Linked DNA regions of Homo sapiens: regions 1 and 2 are each linked to region 3. The links come from fine-mapping of genetic effects on gene expression. A gene starts in region 3. Each other region holds a variant in brackets. All regions are shown on one strand. Distances are between the middles of the regions.

Region 1 (5,224 bases), 140 kb after region 3:
AATAAATTTGACCATATAAAAATAAAAAGTGTTTGCATGGCAAACAAAAAGAATAATCATAAACAAAGTCAAAAGCCAAAATGAGGCCAGGCACAGTGTCTCATGCCTGTAATCCCAGCACTTTGGGAGGCCGAGGCAGGCGGATCACTTGAGGTCAGGAGTTCAAGACAATCCTGGCCAACAAGGTAAAACCCCATCTCTACTAAAAATACAAAAATTAGTCGGGCATGGTGGTGCATGCCTGTAGTCCCAGCTACTTGGGAGACAGAGGCAGGAGATTTCGCTTGATCCCGGGAGGCAGAGGTTGCAGTGAGCCGAGATTGTGCCACTGCACTCCAGCCTGGGCAACAAGAGCGAAACTCTGTGTCAAAAAAAAAAAAAAAAAAAAAAAAGTCAAAATGAAAAATCATGAAGAATTACCTGCAACTCTTATTATAGGCAAGAGGTAATGTTCTATATAAAGATCTCATGTAAATCAAATAAGAAAGAGAACAACAGTTGAATAGAAAAGCAAAGCATATGAACCGACAGTTCCCAGAAAATGAAGCAAAACCAATACAAAAAAAAAAAAAAAAGGAAAGAAAGAAAATACAAATTAAAACCACCCTGAGACAGCATTTTTCACTTTTCAGATTGGCAAGGACCAAAAGAACTGATTACTATACAAGGAGTGGCTATGGTGGTGAGATTTGTCCTCTGCAAACCATGACGGTGGTAGCTGGCAAAGGTTTGGTGAAATAGGCTTTGGCATACATTGTTGATGGGAATGGTGCATGCAGTGTTAAAGGGAATTTATCTGTCAAATTTTTTTAATGCACTTCAATTTTGACCCAGCAATTCTGCTTCTAGGAAATTATCCAACAGATAAATGTGCAAGTGCAAAATGGCATATACACAAATATTTACTGCAGCATTATCTCAGCAAAAGGCTAGAGATAACCCGAATGTCCATCAGAAGGGGACTGCTTAAATAAATTATGGTATATCTGTATAATGGAATATTAAGCAATATTAAAATAGTGAGAATTTCAGAAACGTGTGGGTGTGGAATCTTTCCAGGACACAGAAAGTGAAAAAGTCCTGTGTAGACCAGTGTGTGGAGTATATTACCATTTGTGCCAAGAGAGGAGAGGGGTGATTTTTACCATTTGAGATGGGAGTGAGGGATGATTTTTAAACACAGTTGCTTGCATATGCTTGGAATCTCTCTGGAAGGAGACCTGAGAACTAATAATATTGGTCCTCTATGGGGAGGGGAATGAGTGGAAGCGGAGGAGACGTCACCTTTTGTACCTTTGGAATTTTTTTTTTGTTTTTGACAGGGTCTCACTTTGTTGCCCAGGCTGGAGTGCAGGGATGTGATCACAGCTTGCTGCAGCCTCAATCTCCTGGGCTCAATTGATTCTGCCACCTCAGCCTCCTAAGTAGCTGGGACTACAGATGTGCGTCACCACGCTTGGCTAATTTAAAAAAATTTTCTGTAGAGATGGGGTCTGCACTATGCTACCCAGGCTTGTCTTGAACTCCTGGCTTCAAGCGACCCTCCTGCCTCAGCCTCCCAAAGTGCCGGGATTACAAGCATGAGCCACTGTGTCTGGCCAACTACTGGAATTTTGAATTGTGTGAATGTATTGTCTATTTTTAAAATAATATTAAAATTATGATTTTCTTGTTTTAAAAAAGAGAAGAGTAAAGGAAAGAACATGACACAATAAAGGAAGAGGAGACAGGCCAAATGTCCGTTCCTTCCTTTGCAGCAGATGCAAAGTGGACCCCACTTTGTTCGTGGTGGCGGCTGAGCCTTGCTTCACTCACTTCCCACCTTTCTCCCTCTTTATGGGATTCTTAACAGCACACTCATGGAGATTTTTAAGGAGTGTGTTCCCTGCAAAATCTCAATACCAAGTGATGATTTCCGTAAGTTTCCATAAGTTGGTAAGTTCCAAGCCTTTCCTCCAAGGGGGCATGGTCATCCCTATAGATACAGGACATTAATGGCAAGCAACGCTGATGCTGGGCAGGGAATATGTACTCGCTCTGAGAAAACTGTGAGGGAATTACACGACTCTGCAGTGGAGAACACTGGAGAAAAAGGGGGCCAAAAAGATAAGAAAAGAGAGAACAAGAGAGAGAGAGAGAACAAAAAGAAGCAACTGAAAGTCTATCAATAGGCA[G/A]CTTGTACATCGATACAGGAGAAGACCATGTCATGCAGCTATTACAAAGAAAAAGGAGCAGGATCCTTGGTGCCCAGTTGTTGAAGATTGTTCACTCTCTGTGTACCTGGGGCTGTGTTCTATGCCCTGAGAACCAGATGAGTGGGAGAAACACAAGTGCAGCGAAGCCCGATCAGAAACACAAAACTCTTTGGAAAGATGTCAGCTGGGTTTGGAAGGAAAGGAAGGGGTTTCTGAAGCAGTGCAGGTGAGAGAGGATTGGGCTGGGCCAACGGTCCACATTCTGGCATGTGTTCCTAGGTCTCTTATCTCATTGCAGTATCAATATTTTGATACTATTTCAACAACAGTGCCTTATTTAAGGAATAAATCTGCAATTTCTTGAATTTTCAAATGGTTGCTTCTTTGGCTGGGCAATAACCATGTGAAAGTGTTATTATTCCACAAGTTCACCACCCTGCCTGCTGGAGCTCTCTACTTATTTGGAAAAACAGGACTTTGCACTTGAAGCTGACAGAGAAGAAGGAAGTGGACAAGTTGGAAGACCCAAGCTCTCTTTTAACCTCTTGATCAAAACTAGTGTCACCTTGGGCAACTCCCTATTGTCCCTGTCAGGGCCAGGCTCAGGGTGCACACTTTAAGAGGCACCAAAAATACTCAGTCATCAAGATACAGACTATTTTAATGTAACATTTTAAAAATAAAAATTAATGCAAAAATCTATAATGAACAAAATACCAGACATTTAAATAAATATAGGATCAATATTACTGATTCTTCCTTTTGCTGTGGGCTCCATTATGGCTGGACACAGCATTGTCCCCAAGGCCTCATTTTCCGCATCTCTAAGTCAAGAGGGTTGGACCATTTGACTGCCCAGGAACCTGCTGGGCCCCGTTGTTTTATGGCTCAGTAATGAAGTGCCACTGAAGAATGAGAGAACATTTAACAAAGTGCTAATTGTACAGCCCAGACAATAGTGCGGGTGAGATGACAGGGAGTCTTCATGGGGACAAGGGATGGCAATAGAATCCAGGCAGCTGGGGGAGATAACAACATTTGGCCAGCTTTCTCTTTGTTTCCACTGGACACAAGCTCACCTACCAGCGACAGGAGGGGGACAATGCTCCCGCGCCTCCTCCCTCTTTCTCCCCTGGAACTGTGCTCAGACCTAGTCAGGGGACAGGGAGAGCCTCATTCACATGTGGCTTATGGCCCAGCGACCTGCTGGCTAACAAAGCTTTCTAAGGATATCTGAGAGAAGCTTGGTACCCCATAGGAGGAAGGGACAGCAACAGAGGTGCCCTGCCCGGTATCCTGGGACCCAACCAGTGCTGCCCTCTCACCTCATCCCAAGATGGGCAAAGCAGCACAGCTTGCTCTCTCGTAACCTTCCTGAGGGCACCATTGTCTTGACCGAGTCCTCTAAGGCCGGCATGGAATGAATGCATGAGAACAGCTGTGAATACAAAGCTTAGGACATTCTGTGGACATGTTGAGACAAATTAGTTAATAATCATCTAGTTAGGGAATCCCATTTCCAGAGTGAATGACTTGCACCTCCCCATCACCCAAGTCCAGGATAACATTTCTCAGTGAGACTTCAAACCCATGTTCCACATGGGGGCTGCAGCTCCACCCCTTGGGACGGCCTGGCTGCTCATGCAACCCATTTCCCGAGAGGCTGGTTTCAGAATGCTCTTCCCAAATCCTCACCAGCTCAGAGATGAAGCTTCATCTCTGCAAATGTCATTCATCACTAGAAAGTGGCTGGGGCCTCTGAGGTCCTGTTCAGATCAACAGGATGAGAGAATCCCGCTCTTCAGGAAAACCCACCTCTTCTCATTGGCCCCAGTGCCCCTCGCATTCTTGCCGAGCTGCAGGAGGGCAGCTAAAGACAAGTGACATTGGAAAAAACAGTGGCCTCCACCCTGGACAGGAAGAATGGCTCCCTTCATCGGGACTGCTCTGGGATGCCAGGGTTATCCAGGTCCCAGAGTGAGGAAGTGAATCAACTCTTCCCAGCCTTCAGTCATGCAGGCTGCTTCTGTACCCTTCAGTGGTGTGGTATTTAGACACGTTTTGTGAAAACCTGATGAACATCTCACTTAGATGTTGGAAACAAACATAAGCCCCAGCCAATTCTTACACTTGCTGAGGATGAATAAGTCCCTTTGGCTTCCCAGTTAGCTGGGTCCAACAAGCGAATTTAGAGGCTAAGAAGTGAGTTGTTGGCCCTCACATGGACTTACCATCTGAGTGTGCCCTTGGCTGGCTGCATAGCTTGAGAGCAGCGGTTCTCAACCTTAGGCACAGATTGGAATCACATGGGGGGCTTAAAAAACACTGACCAGGGTCCCCCCACCAAAAAAAATTCTGATTTAATTGTTCTGGGGTGCAGTCACAACATTGGGATCTTCAAAAGCTCCCCAAGTGATCCCAATATGCAGTCAGGACTGGGAACTACTGCCCCACCCAGACCAGTGCTGAAACCTTAACATGTAAACAAATGACCTCAGGATCTTATTAAATGAAGATTCTGATTCAGCAGGTCTGGGGTGGGACCTGAACTTCTGTACTTCTTTTTTTTTTTTTTAGACGGAGTCTCGCACTGTCACCCAAGCTGGAGTGCAGTGGCGCAATCTCGGCTCACTGCTGCAACCTCCGCCTCCCGGGTTCAAGTGATTCTCCTGCCTCAGCCTCCTGAGTAGCTGGGATTATAGGTGCATGCCACCACACCCAGTTAATTTTTGTGTTTTTAGTAGAGACAGGGTTTCACCATGTTGGTCAGGCTGGTCTCGAACTCCTGACCTGGTCGTCTGCCCACCTCAGCCTCCCAAAGTGCTGGGATTACAGGCATGAGCCACTGCGCCCGGCCGAACTACTGTACTTCTAACAAGCTCCCAGGTGATGAGATGCTGCTGGTCTGCAGACCCCACTTCAAGTAGCAAGAGCACACTGCATTGTCTAACATGGTAGCTAACAGCCACACAGGCTGCTGCTTAATTAAACCTTAAAACAACTTAAACTTTAGAAATTCAGTTCCTTCA
Region 2 (5,224 bases), 320 kb after region 3:
CAGGAATGCGGGGAACTTGTCAATGCTGCCACAGCCCCTCCCTCCTCAGGACTCAACAGCCTCACTCCAAGTCTGAACAGACTCTTTAAGAATTAGACAGATCTGAGCCAAGGGTCACAGATCCAGGGTTATTTGATCTAGGGGATGCACAAGGGGTGGATCAAGTATCAAATTTCAAGCTGGGTTGTTCTGCAAATTGTCTGAGCTGGACTCTGGGAAGGAAGGCATGGCCTCCTAGATACTGGTTGCTGAGAGGAGGAAGGCAGGAAGAAGCTCCCGTGAGCTCCTGGGGGTAGTGGGCAGAGCTCCCCTTAGACCTCCAGACCTTGGTGGTGAAAGGAGAAGTCACACATAGCCTGGTCGACAGCCCTTATTTAGCTCCGTAGGGCCTCCCCGCTGCACTCTTCACTTGCACTCAGAAGCCTACTGGGCCTCTGGAAAGGCCCATGCCACCCTGACCCAATCCCAAATCCTGGCTGGACATGGTGGCTCATGCCTGTAATCCCAACACTTTGGGAGGCCGGGGAGGGAGGATTACTTGAGGCCAGGATTTCAAGACCAGCCTGGGCAACATAGAGAGGCGGCATCTCTACAAACAAATTTTAAAAATAAATTAGCTGGGCCTGGTGGCATGTGCCTGTAGTCCTAGCTACCTGGGGGGCCAAGGTGGGAGGACTGCCTGAGCTCCGGAGGTTGAGTCTGCAATGAGCCATGATCGCACCACTGCACTCTAGCCTGGGCAATAGAGCGAGAGCCTATGTCAAAAAACAACAAAAACAAAAGAATCCTGCAGACACCTGTGAACATCTGTGGCAGCCGGCATGGGGCTAGGGCCAAAGTGAGGGCAGGTGCCCCAACTTTGTCAACTCCTGACTACTATTTCCCCATTTGCCTACTAGGCTGGCCAGATAGATCAAGCGGCCTATCAGGAAGGGCTTGGTCCCCTAAGCCACTGGCCCAGCCTGGCAAGGACTGTGAGCCCCAGGTTAAGCGTGTAGGGGAAATGCTCCTGGTATCCTTTCTGCTTCCTCCACTTCCCCTAGCCCCACTGATTTACATGTCTTTCCCTCTCCTACCCAGGAGCCCCCGGAGAGGGACAGGGAGGGGATTGTGGAGGCCCTGGGTGATAAAGTAGGGATGGGGGAGAAGTGATAAAGGGGGTGGGGGAGAAGCCAGCTGCACTTCCTCCCTGATAGGGACCCCACCCCAAGAGGCTCCTGCCTCTGCTGTGTTCACAGGAAGGACTGGAGGTGGTAGAGGAGTGGATGGGGAGGGCGGTGGGCAGGATATCAGTGGCTTCTGCAATCCTTTGCCTTGGAAGATGACAGTTCATTATTTTGTCCTTCGGTTGTTCATTCATCAGCAAATACTTACCACACTCCTCCTACCACCGCTGGCAGAGCTCTGGGCTGGGAGGGCCAAGGAGGCAGATTGAGCTCAGTAGCTCTGCTGGTCTCCCCTCCACCCCACTCTTCAGCCTTGAGGGAGGCAATGAGTGAATAAGAGATGAACTTTAACAGCAGGTCATTGGAATCCTGATAGTGTCTCTTACTGACTGTGTAACCTTGTGGGAAATGTGTGAGCTCTCTGATCTTCAGCTTTCTCATCTGTGAATGACCATGTAGAGCTGGTAAAGATAACGGAAGGAAGGCTCGCAGCACGCCGCAGGGCCTGGCCTTGTCTAGGGCAGCAATGAAGAGCAGCAGAAGTGGCATCTAGCAGGAGCAGGATTTGAACCCTGGCAGTCCCCTGAGTCGCTGTGGAACTGCTGGCTATTTGTCTGTCTTCTGTAAAGCAAAGAGAGTAATGGTACTTACTTCCTAGGTGTTGTGAAGACCACATGAGCTACTATGTAGTATTTAGAATTGCGCTTGGCATGGAGTTCGGTGCTCGGTAAATGTTAGCCTTTATTACTGTAATTTTCATCATCCTCTGGGGACCCTCTCCTCTAAAGAGATAACGTCTAACCTGATATCGTCTTCCTTATAAGCAGCTCCTCCAACACATTCCAAGTCAGGGATAGACGGGGTAGAAGCAGGGATTCACAGGTGGACCCCTCTTGTGAAAGGCCAAGCTGGCCCTCAACCCAGCTCCTAGGATGGCAGACGCACGCCTGGCCCGGCCCATGGTGCCAACAACTCCGCTTACTCCCCCAGCTCCACGGTGTTGTGCTGGTGGGTAGTGCGGAAGACCTGAGGTCTGCCCCATTATCTCCTCCTGCAAAGCCTCCTCCACCCGTTAACCCCCAACCGAGATTATAGAGCCTCAACTGTCTCCAACTGCTCTGATTCAGGGATAAGGCTGGACCTTCGAGCCCATCAGCCCCACAGTGTTGAGGGGAGGCTGCCTGGTTCCCTGGGAGCTGGCGAGCTGGGGAAGTTGGACCACGGCAGAGGCTGGGGACACCCCCCTGCCCACCTGCCTGCCTGCTCTGGTGTTGCCTCCAGAACTTGAGGAAAAAAGTGATCCTCCTCTGGGGAGAGGCCTTCCTGGGTTCACTAAGGCTCTTTTCTCCCATCTCTGTCTTTCCTGTCTACCTCGCTGGCTCCAGGCTGCTTCTACTGTTTCTACTTCTCTCTCAGGCTGCTCTTCCCCCACCCCCAGAGCCTCGAAGCTGCACACCTGTCTCCTCACATCAGATAACCCGACCACAGCAGCTCCTGTCACCCCAGCCAGGCTC[C/G]CAGCAGCCCCCCAGCTCCCTCGCCCATCGCCCTCTTCCTCTCCTGCCACCCCCACCTTCTAGCTCCCTGACACACCTACACAGCCCTGGGGAGGGACTGGGAGGGGAACCCCAAAGCCTTACTGGGTAATGAGGGTGTGAGAAGACAGCTCTTCCTACTCCCCAACATACACGCGTGCGCGCGCACGCGCGCGCGCGCACACACACACACACACACACACACACACACGGTGGAAACTCTATACCCCTGTGCCTAGTCAGAAACAGTGACGGGGAGGGACCCAGGGACCAGGCCTCGAGGTATGAGGAAAATCCATCCTGCCCAAGTGAGGGGGTTGGGGAGTCACAGAAAGGGGCAGCTTCTGGGGCTGAGGGTTCCACTGCCTCCTGTTTTTAGGCAAAGAGTTTCCAGGGCTTCATCTCCAAGTCCTAAGGCTAGAGGCCCCCAGCAGGGCCCTCCTCTGGTGGAGCTGGGCTGGGGAGGTGGGTGGGTGCCATGTGGACCTGCCCCAGCCCCTTCCCACTGTTCCTCAAGAGGCCAAGTGGGGAGGAGGTTGGGGGGTGGTTGTGGGGGCAGCGGCGCTGAGTTTGGGATGCTGGGGCTCAGGGAGACTGGGTAAGAGCTGGGCAGGACACCGTGGGAAGGGGAGTGGTGGGACCTAGGAGGGAGGGGAACAAAGACCAGGGTGCCTGGGAGCTGGAGGTTTTAATACCTCTTGACAACAAATGAATCATAGGCAAATTCTGTGGAAATGATGGCGTAAAGAAAGATGTGTTATTTCAAGGCCCCAGTGTGTTGTTGTGGGAAGAGAGTGGAACGGGGAGGAGCAGGAGGCCTAATGGCGCCTGTAGGTGGGGGCCCGGGTAGAGTTCCTGGGGGCGCCGTGAAGGTGATGGCCCCTGCATCTCATGTCACCTTCAGGGGGTGATGTGAAACAGCAGGTGGCCGACCACAGCCCGCCAACCCCCACCCCAAAGCAGAGAGGCCCTCATACCCGCTGAGCTCACCTCACTGTGATGCTCTGTTCCTCCTGCAGTCAGCCCTGTCCTCTGGGGGCTGTCCCCACAGGCGCCTGCCATGGCCTGCTCCTCAGCAGTAGTAGAGGAGACTATGGAGCTCCAGGAGCCTCCCATATATGGGAGGGAATCTGCAGTGAGCACCTGGCCATCACCCCTCACGGTGGGCTTTTTCCTATCAGGAGAATGCTGAGTTGATACCCACAGTGACCGCACCTGCCTTGCGGTCGGAGCTCAGTCTATTAAGTTGCCAGATAAATGCATTTGTGGCCTCTGGAAGGTTGTCAGGGCCCTTGCTATAGCTGAGACCCAAATCTCAGCTTCTGGTCAACCCTCATTCCCGCTCTCCGCAATGTTAAGACTCATTAAATGAGACCAAAACCATATATACCCATTCCACCCTACATAATCATTACCTATGACACATATTTCCTCTTCACCTTCTCCTCCATGCCTATATGTTTTTTAATACAGTTGCAATCATGGGGTATGTACCAATCTCTATTCTCTTGTGATGCTGTGTTGCATATAAACATCTTCCTAACAGCTTCATAGTTTTCTATTAAGTGGAAATATAGTATCATAATTTACCTCCACAATTTTCCAATCATAAGTGTTCAAATTGTCTCTAATTTTCTATATTATAGGCAGTGTGATGGGGGACATCATTAGGCACATACTCCGCTCCTCCTCCCCCAATTTTGACTATAGAAATCTAGTTTAGGATACACTGGGTGGGGTTATTGAGCCAAAGGGTAACAGCACATTATAGCTCTTACTATATATTGCCAAACTGATTTCAAAAGAGGTTACGCCATTACCGACAGCACACACACTTCACCGAGCTCTCGCTAATGTTTCAAAAAGGCACCTACCTTTGTCTCATTTTAATTGGCATTACTTTGAGGACGATCAGGTTGAACATACCCCTACCTCTGCTTGTGAGTTGTGTTTCCTCTGTACCAGGAGAGTCTGTTTCTGGGCTTTGAACTTTAGTCTCCACTGTTCTAGTGCTTCTTAACAGTTTGTGTGAGCTCTCTTTATAAGAATGATTTTAGGGCCGGGTGCGGTGGCTCATACCTGTAATCCCAGCACTTTGGGAGGCCGAGGCAGGCAGATTGCCTGAGGTCAGACCAGCCTGGCCAACATGGTGAAACCCTGTCTCTACTAAAAATATAGAAATTAGCCGGGCTTGGTGGCGGGTGCCTGTAGTCCCAGCTACTCGGGAGGCTGAGGCAGGAGAATCACTTGAACCTGGGAGTCGGAGGTTGCAGTGAGCCCTGATCATGCCATTGCACTCCAGCCTGGGCCACAGAGCAAGACTTCATCTCAAACAAAAACAAACAACAACAAAAAAATGATTTTAAAGCATTGTCAACTGCAACCGTGTGCGAGTCTCTCCTTCTTGATATTCTCTCCCACTTGGGATTCCGATGCACTTCCTCTTGCTTCATTGAAATCTGTGACTGCTCCCGGCCTGCTCCAGCTTCCACTCCTCGCCCATCTGAAGTCTTTGTTTTCTCAGGT
Region 3 (5,224 bases):
TATTACAGCTCTAGCCCCAAGGATGAAGATGAAGACCATGTTAGTGAATCATACAATAACAATGTCTTTGATTGGGCCAGATGGTGAGTTTCCAGATTATTTTGGCCAGACCAGGAAGAATGCAGAAATTGTTAGCCAGTTCAATTGCTGCACACATGAGGGCACACAGGAAAAAAGAGCTAGCCAAAGCAGTGATGCTGGGTGCAATATTCTCTTGTTAAAGAGGAAGGAAGCAGCCAGGCGCGGTGGCTCACGCCTGTAATCCCAACACTTTTGGAGACCGAAGTGGGTGGAACACCTGAGGTCAGGAGTTCGACACCAGCCTGGCCATCATGGTGATACCCTGTCTCTACTAAAAATACAAAAATTAGCCAGGTGTGATGGTGCCCGCCTGTAACCCCAGCTACTCAGGAGGCCAAGGCAGGAGAATTGCTTGAACCCGGGAGGTGGGTGGAGGTTGCAGTGAGCTGAGATCGTGCCACTGCACTCCAGCCTGGGTGACAGAGTGAGACTTCATCTCAAAAAAAAAAAAAAAAGGAAGCTTTGTCTTCCATAGAAATATATATATTGTGTATATATATGTAATATATATAGTATATCTGTAATATATAGTACATATGTAATATATATATTGTGTGTATATATATATGTTATATATATGCAACCTACAGAATGACCTTTGCACCATTGTACCATGAGAATGTTTCTATTTTGGATTGGCATGTTACTCCTGGGTTCAGTCAAAATAGACTCTTGAAACTGTAAGATTACAACTCAAAGTCTCCCAGGTAGCTGTGGTGAGACCAGAGGACCAAGTCTAAATGAAGTCAGTGAAGAGTGGAGGACGCTCATGGAAGGACACAGCAAGGGAGGCACAGCCAGTGCATCTCCCATTATGAATGGGCCCTCCCAGCAGCTTTATTGGCTCTCCAGTGTTTTGGACCCTTGCTCATACAGGCTGTGGAACTGAATTTCACAGAAAAGAATAATTTTTATAGCACTTTGGCTTCTCTCTTCTTGAGTTATTTGCTCTTCTGTGTTCTTGGTGGCTGATGATAGTCAGATTAGGCTCTCTGCCATTCAAAGTTTATCTTTGTACTTGAAAGCATAAGTTTTGTCTTCTTTGTTAATGAATATCACTGTCAGGCTTGCTCCACTGCCCTATCAGCAGGTACTGATTTGACTAATAAAGATGAGATCTATTGTTTGGGGGGAAAAAAAGTTAGTTTGATTTCTCTAGGGGTCTCTTATGTGATTTTTAGCTAAGTGATGGGCTAGGTTTTCAATGACATGCCAAATGGAAATAAGAAGATATTGATCATGAGTGTGACATAGAGTAGTTTTCTGCATATACTGAGTTGCAGGCCAAGTAAAATAAAAGTGTACTCAGTTTTTCAATAAATAAGTAAAATAACCTGTATTGAGAGCCTATTTTATCACTCCCTGGGAGACTCCGCTCATTCTTACATTTGTAAGATGCTGATGGTTTCCCAGAATTTATATACTTCAGCATTTCCCAACCAAGAAATTTGAGAGATGTGGTCCAGTGTGGTGACTCATGCCTGTAATCCCAGCACTTTGGGAGGCCGAGGAGGGTGGATCACCTGAGGTCAGGAGTTTGAGACCAGCCTGGCCAACATGGTGAAACCCCATCTCTAATAAAAATACAAAAAAAAAATTAGCCAGGTGTGGTGGCAGGTGACTGTAGTCTCAGTTACTCAGGAGGCTGAGGCAGGAGAATCACTTGAACCCGGAAGGCTGAGGTTGCAGCCAGCCGAGATCACGCCATTGCACTCCAGCCTGGGTGAGAAGAGCGAAACTACATCTCAAAAATAAATAATGATGATGATAATAATAATAATAATAATAATAATAATAAAAACATTGCCAACATTTGCAACTTGGAAAAATTCACTTTTTAAAAAAAATCTGTATTTCAGCTTCTTTTGAAAAATGGACGATCTCACCATGGTGCAGTGGCAGGAAGTGGAGGGCATATTCCTACCTGGCAAAATTCCTTTGAGTCTGGAGCTCAAAGGAGGCCCACTCCTCAGACCAGGTCATGAACTTTCAGTTTACCATCCTCTTACTGATGTACATGATCTGTCTGGGCCTGCTTTAAATCTCTAATTGGTTAGATTTGGTTGCTTAGAACAAGCTCTGGGGAGTAGGTGTGGGGCACTCTGGTTAAACAGGCTACCGGGCAGACCACAACTCTTGCAGTCTGCCTAAATGGGCTGCTGCTTCACTCCTTCCATGCACCACCACCATGTGCTGCTGACTTCAAAATGTTTATGCTTTGCACAGAAAGTCTGTCACTCAGAGGTGTCATCATGTTTTTGTGCGGGAAGTTTCATTAACCCTAATAAGAGTTATAAAGGTCATTTATTCCTCTACATTTAGAATACTACACCTCTTGGGTGGTTGAGTTTGTCTTTGATATGGTTTACTTGAAGGAGGGTGGACATGTACAGGAGGGTTCTAAGGAGCATAGATTCGTTCCACCATTATGAATAATGCTGTAAGTATTTTTGTCAAAGACACTTCCTACTAAGAGTTTAGTCTCCTAAGCAACTGAACCATTGTGGATGGACCCCTGCTGGCCTGGTCCACGCAGGTGCAACCATATAGAATCGGCCCAACACTCAGGGTTCCTGAGCTTTTTTATCCCCGCTGCAGGACCAAGACCCGAACCCTGCGGCTGTGGCCGAGAACGCTGCACTGAGCCTGCGCGCAAAGCCTCTGAGTAAAAGGAGAAAGTAACCCCCTAACTAGGCCTCTGGAGGGCGAAAGCTGCTGCACAAGTCTGCGCAGGCGCGCCCCGCTGACGAACACTCATCAGTGCGCAGGCGCCCATCTTAGTTGGTCTTCTAGTCCGGTAAACAGAGGGCCTGCCCCCGACAGCTTCTGCTTCCGGGTCACGCCTTGACAGCGGCTTTCAACCCCCACCTCAGCCCAGCAATTCGGTGAGTGCGGTCCTTGGAGTGGGTCTACAGCCAGGTTTCCTAACCCAGGGTACCACGCCCAATAACGCTTCCTCTACTCCCTGGTCGAAGTGCTCTAGTTCTCGAGGCTGAGACTTATTTCCGGGCCTTAGAAGGCAGATCGAAGAGGGGGTTGGTCCGCGTCTGAGGCCCCCCAGCGCAAATTGCGTGATTCTCTTTCAGTACCGGACCTACCGGGATTGCTGCGATCTGTTTAGAGCCCGTGCAGAAAGTGACACCGCACGTCCTTGCGTTTCGTGCCCTTGCCCCCCGCCCCCTAGCCTCAGCGAGACAGCTGCCGCGGGCCCTCCCGCAGCAGGTGCGGTGGGGATTACGGGCGCTGCAGGCTCGGCCAAGGTTCTCCCGGGGCGGGAGGGGGCGGGGCCGAGGCCTCCCTCGCATCAGAGCTGTTGTGTCTTCTCTTTTCCAGTTTGCTTTTTTTTTTTTTTTTTTTCAGCTTCTCAGTAAGTGCCCTTTGGTGTTTTCTCTGGATCCCGTAGCAAAAGAAAACGAGGGAGACAGGGCTTTCAGCTCTAGCAGAGGAAAGGGCCTTCCAAGGGGATCAAACCTTACACGGGCTGCTGTCTAGTGAGATCGAATTTAGCTTTCCTTGACCATTCCTGAAGTGAATGCTGTCTGCCCTGAAGTTTCATTCCTTTACCGGGAGCTTCCAGGCAGCAGCAGACCACTGACCATACTCTCAGGAGTTCTTAGCCCAGAGCCCAAGAGCGCCCGGGAAATTAGTTCAGGATTTAGTTTCATCCGATTATCATGGCCCAGAAATGGTTAACAAAACGACTTTATTTATTTATTTTAATTTTTGAATTTTTTTGTAGAGACGATTGGGTTTTGGGGTCGTCTCGCCATGTTGCTCAGGCTGGTCTTGAACTTCCAGGTTCAAGAGTTCCTCCTGCCTTGGCCTCCCAAAGTGCTGGGATTACAGGCAACAGAACCACTTTGGTCCAAGCCTCCTGCTTTAGATGCTCTGTCTTCTGCTGCCATTCTTGGAATTACCAACTCAAATGCACTTGTCTTTTTTTTTCCTTGAAACAAAAAAATTATAAGATACAGATACTTGTCTCAGAGCAGTTTAGTGGCTACTGGAGAGATTAAAACACATGCCAAATCTAAACTATCTAGAAAATGTCATAGAGACATATAAACAAGTGTGTCAGCTTATCCGTGCATGATAACGGGAGAAAAATACCTAATTTGAATTATCGATACATATGAATATTTTTACTTGCATTCTTTTAATGGAATTTACATCTACTATAAATGGCTACTGATTCACAAAATAGAAACTATCAGAATTTATAGTATATAATATATAAAGGGATACACAATCACAAAAAGCAAAAATAGGCCGGGCATGGTGGCTCATGTCTGTAATCCCAGCACTCTGGGAGGCCAAAGCAGGTGGATGACCTGAGGTCAGGAGTTTGAGACCAGTTTGGCCAACATGGTGAAACCCTGTCTCTACTAAACATACAAAAATTAGCTGGGCGTGATGGTGCACACCTGTAAATCCCAGCTACTCAGGAGGCTGAGGAACGTGAATTGCTTGAGCCTGGGAGGCTGAGGTTGCAGTGAGCTGAGATCGCACCACTGCACTCCAGCCTAGATGACAGAGTGAGACTCCGCCTCAAAAAAAAAAAAATAAAGCAAAAGACTATATATACATATATATATATATATTTTTTTTTTTTTTGAGATGGAGTCTCACTCTGTCATCTAGGCTGGAGTGCAGTGGCGCGATCTCAGCTCACTGCAACCGCCACCTCCCAGGTTCAAGCGATTCTCCTGCCTCAGCCTCCCAAGTGGCTGGGACTACCAGGGGTGGTGCATGCCACCATGCCTGGCTAATTTTTTTGTATTTTCAGTAGAGACGGGGTTTCACCATGTTGGCCAGGCTAGTCTCGAACTGCTGACCTCAAGTGATCCGCCCATCTCGGCCTCCCAAAGTGCTGGGATTACAGGCGTGAGCCATCGCGCCCCGCCAAAACATTATATATTATTAAATGACCAAAACAATTTCATATGGGTAATGTGCTTATTTATTTCAAGTCTTGAATTTCTTAGGATCTAAAGTAATAAACTTTACATTGGTTCAACAGATGTTAAGAACCTACCATGTGTTCAGGTACTATTGAAAAAATCAGTATCGTTATTCCCAAAGAGCTTATAATAAGAACACAGATTTCTAAGCAGTTGCACCTAGAGAGCTGATACTGTGTATT

Which allele goes with the higher level. Positions count from the first base shown, and alleles are read on the strand shown. Sizes are in standard deviations (SD) of each study's normalised expression. Not every link is listed here.
For the expression in Th2 cells of the gene that starts at base 2,910 in region 3, allele C in region 2 goes with a lower level than allele G (large effect, 1.2 SD a copy in Schmiedel 2018).

The links.
Region 1: its variant is fine-mapped to the expression of ASB8 in whole blood (INTERVAL, PIP 0.94).
Region 2: its variant is fine-mapped to the expression of ASB8 in Th2 cells (Schmiedel 2018, PIP 0.95).

The regions. Positions count from the first base shown.
Region 1 is chr12:48,015,578-48,020,801 of GRCh38, reverse strand. LOC105369750 (a long non-coding RNA gene) reads right to left here. Exons shown (of 4, transcript XR_944904.3): 2 at 3,521-3,658. It overlaps LOC124902927 (a long non-coding RNA gene), which reads left to right. Exons shown (of 2, transcript XR_007063293.1): 2 at 633-1,031. Among named protein-coding and RNA genes, the nearest start is that of COL2A1, 14 kb to the right of the region's middle. The variant G/A (reference allele first, on the strand shown) is at 2,175.
Region 2 is chr12:47,830,802-47,836,025 of GRCh38, reverse strand. It overlaps LINC02354 (long intergenic non-protein coding RNA 2354), which reads right to left. Exons shown (of 3, transcript XR_007063292.1): 2 at 1,375-1,787. Among named protein-coding and RNA genes, the nearest start is that of LINC02354, 4.3 kb to the right of the region's middle. RefSeq lists an enhancer at 3,945-3,994. The variant C/G (reference allele first, on the strand shown) is at 2,681.
Region 3 is chr12:48,155,201-48,160,424 of GRCh38, reverse strand. It overlaps ASB8 (ankyrin repeat and SOCS box containing 8), which reads left to right and starts at 2,910. Exons shown (of 4, transcript NM_024095.5): 1 at 2,910-2,966. It also overlaps the pseudogene LOC100421855. RefSeq lists enhancers at 2,730-2,949, 2,980-3,029, 3,050-3,099, 2,604-3,126.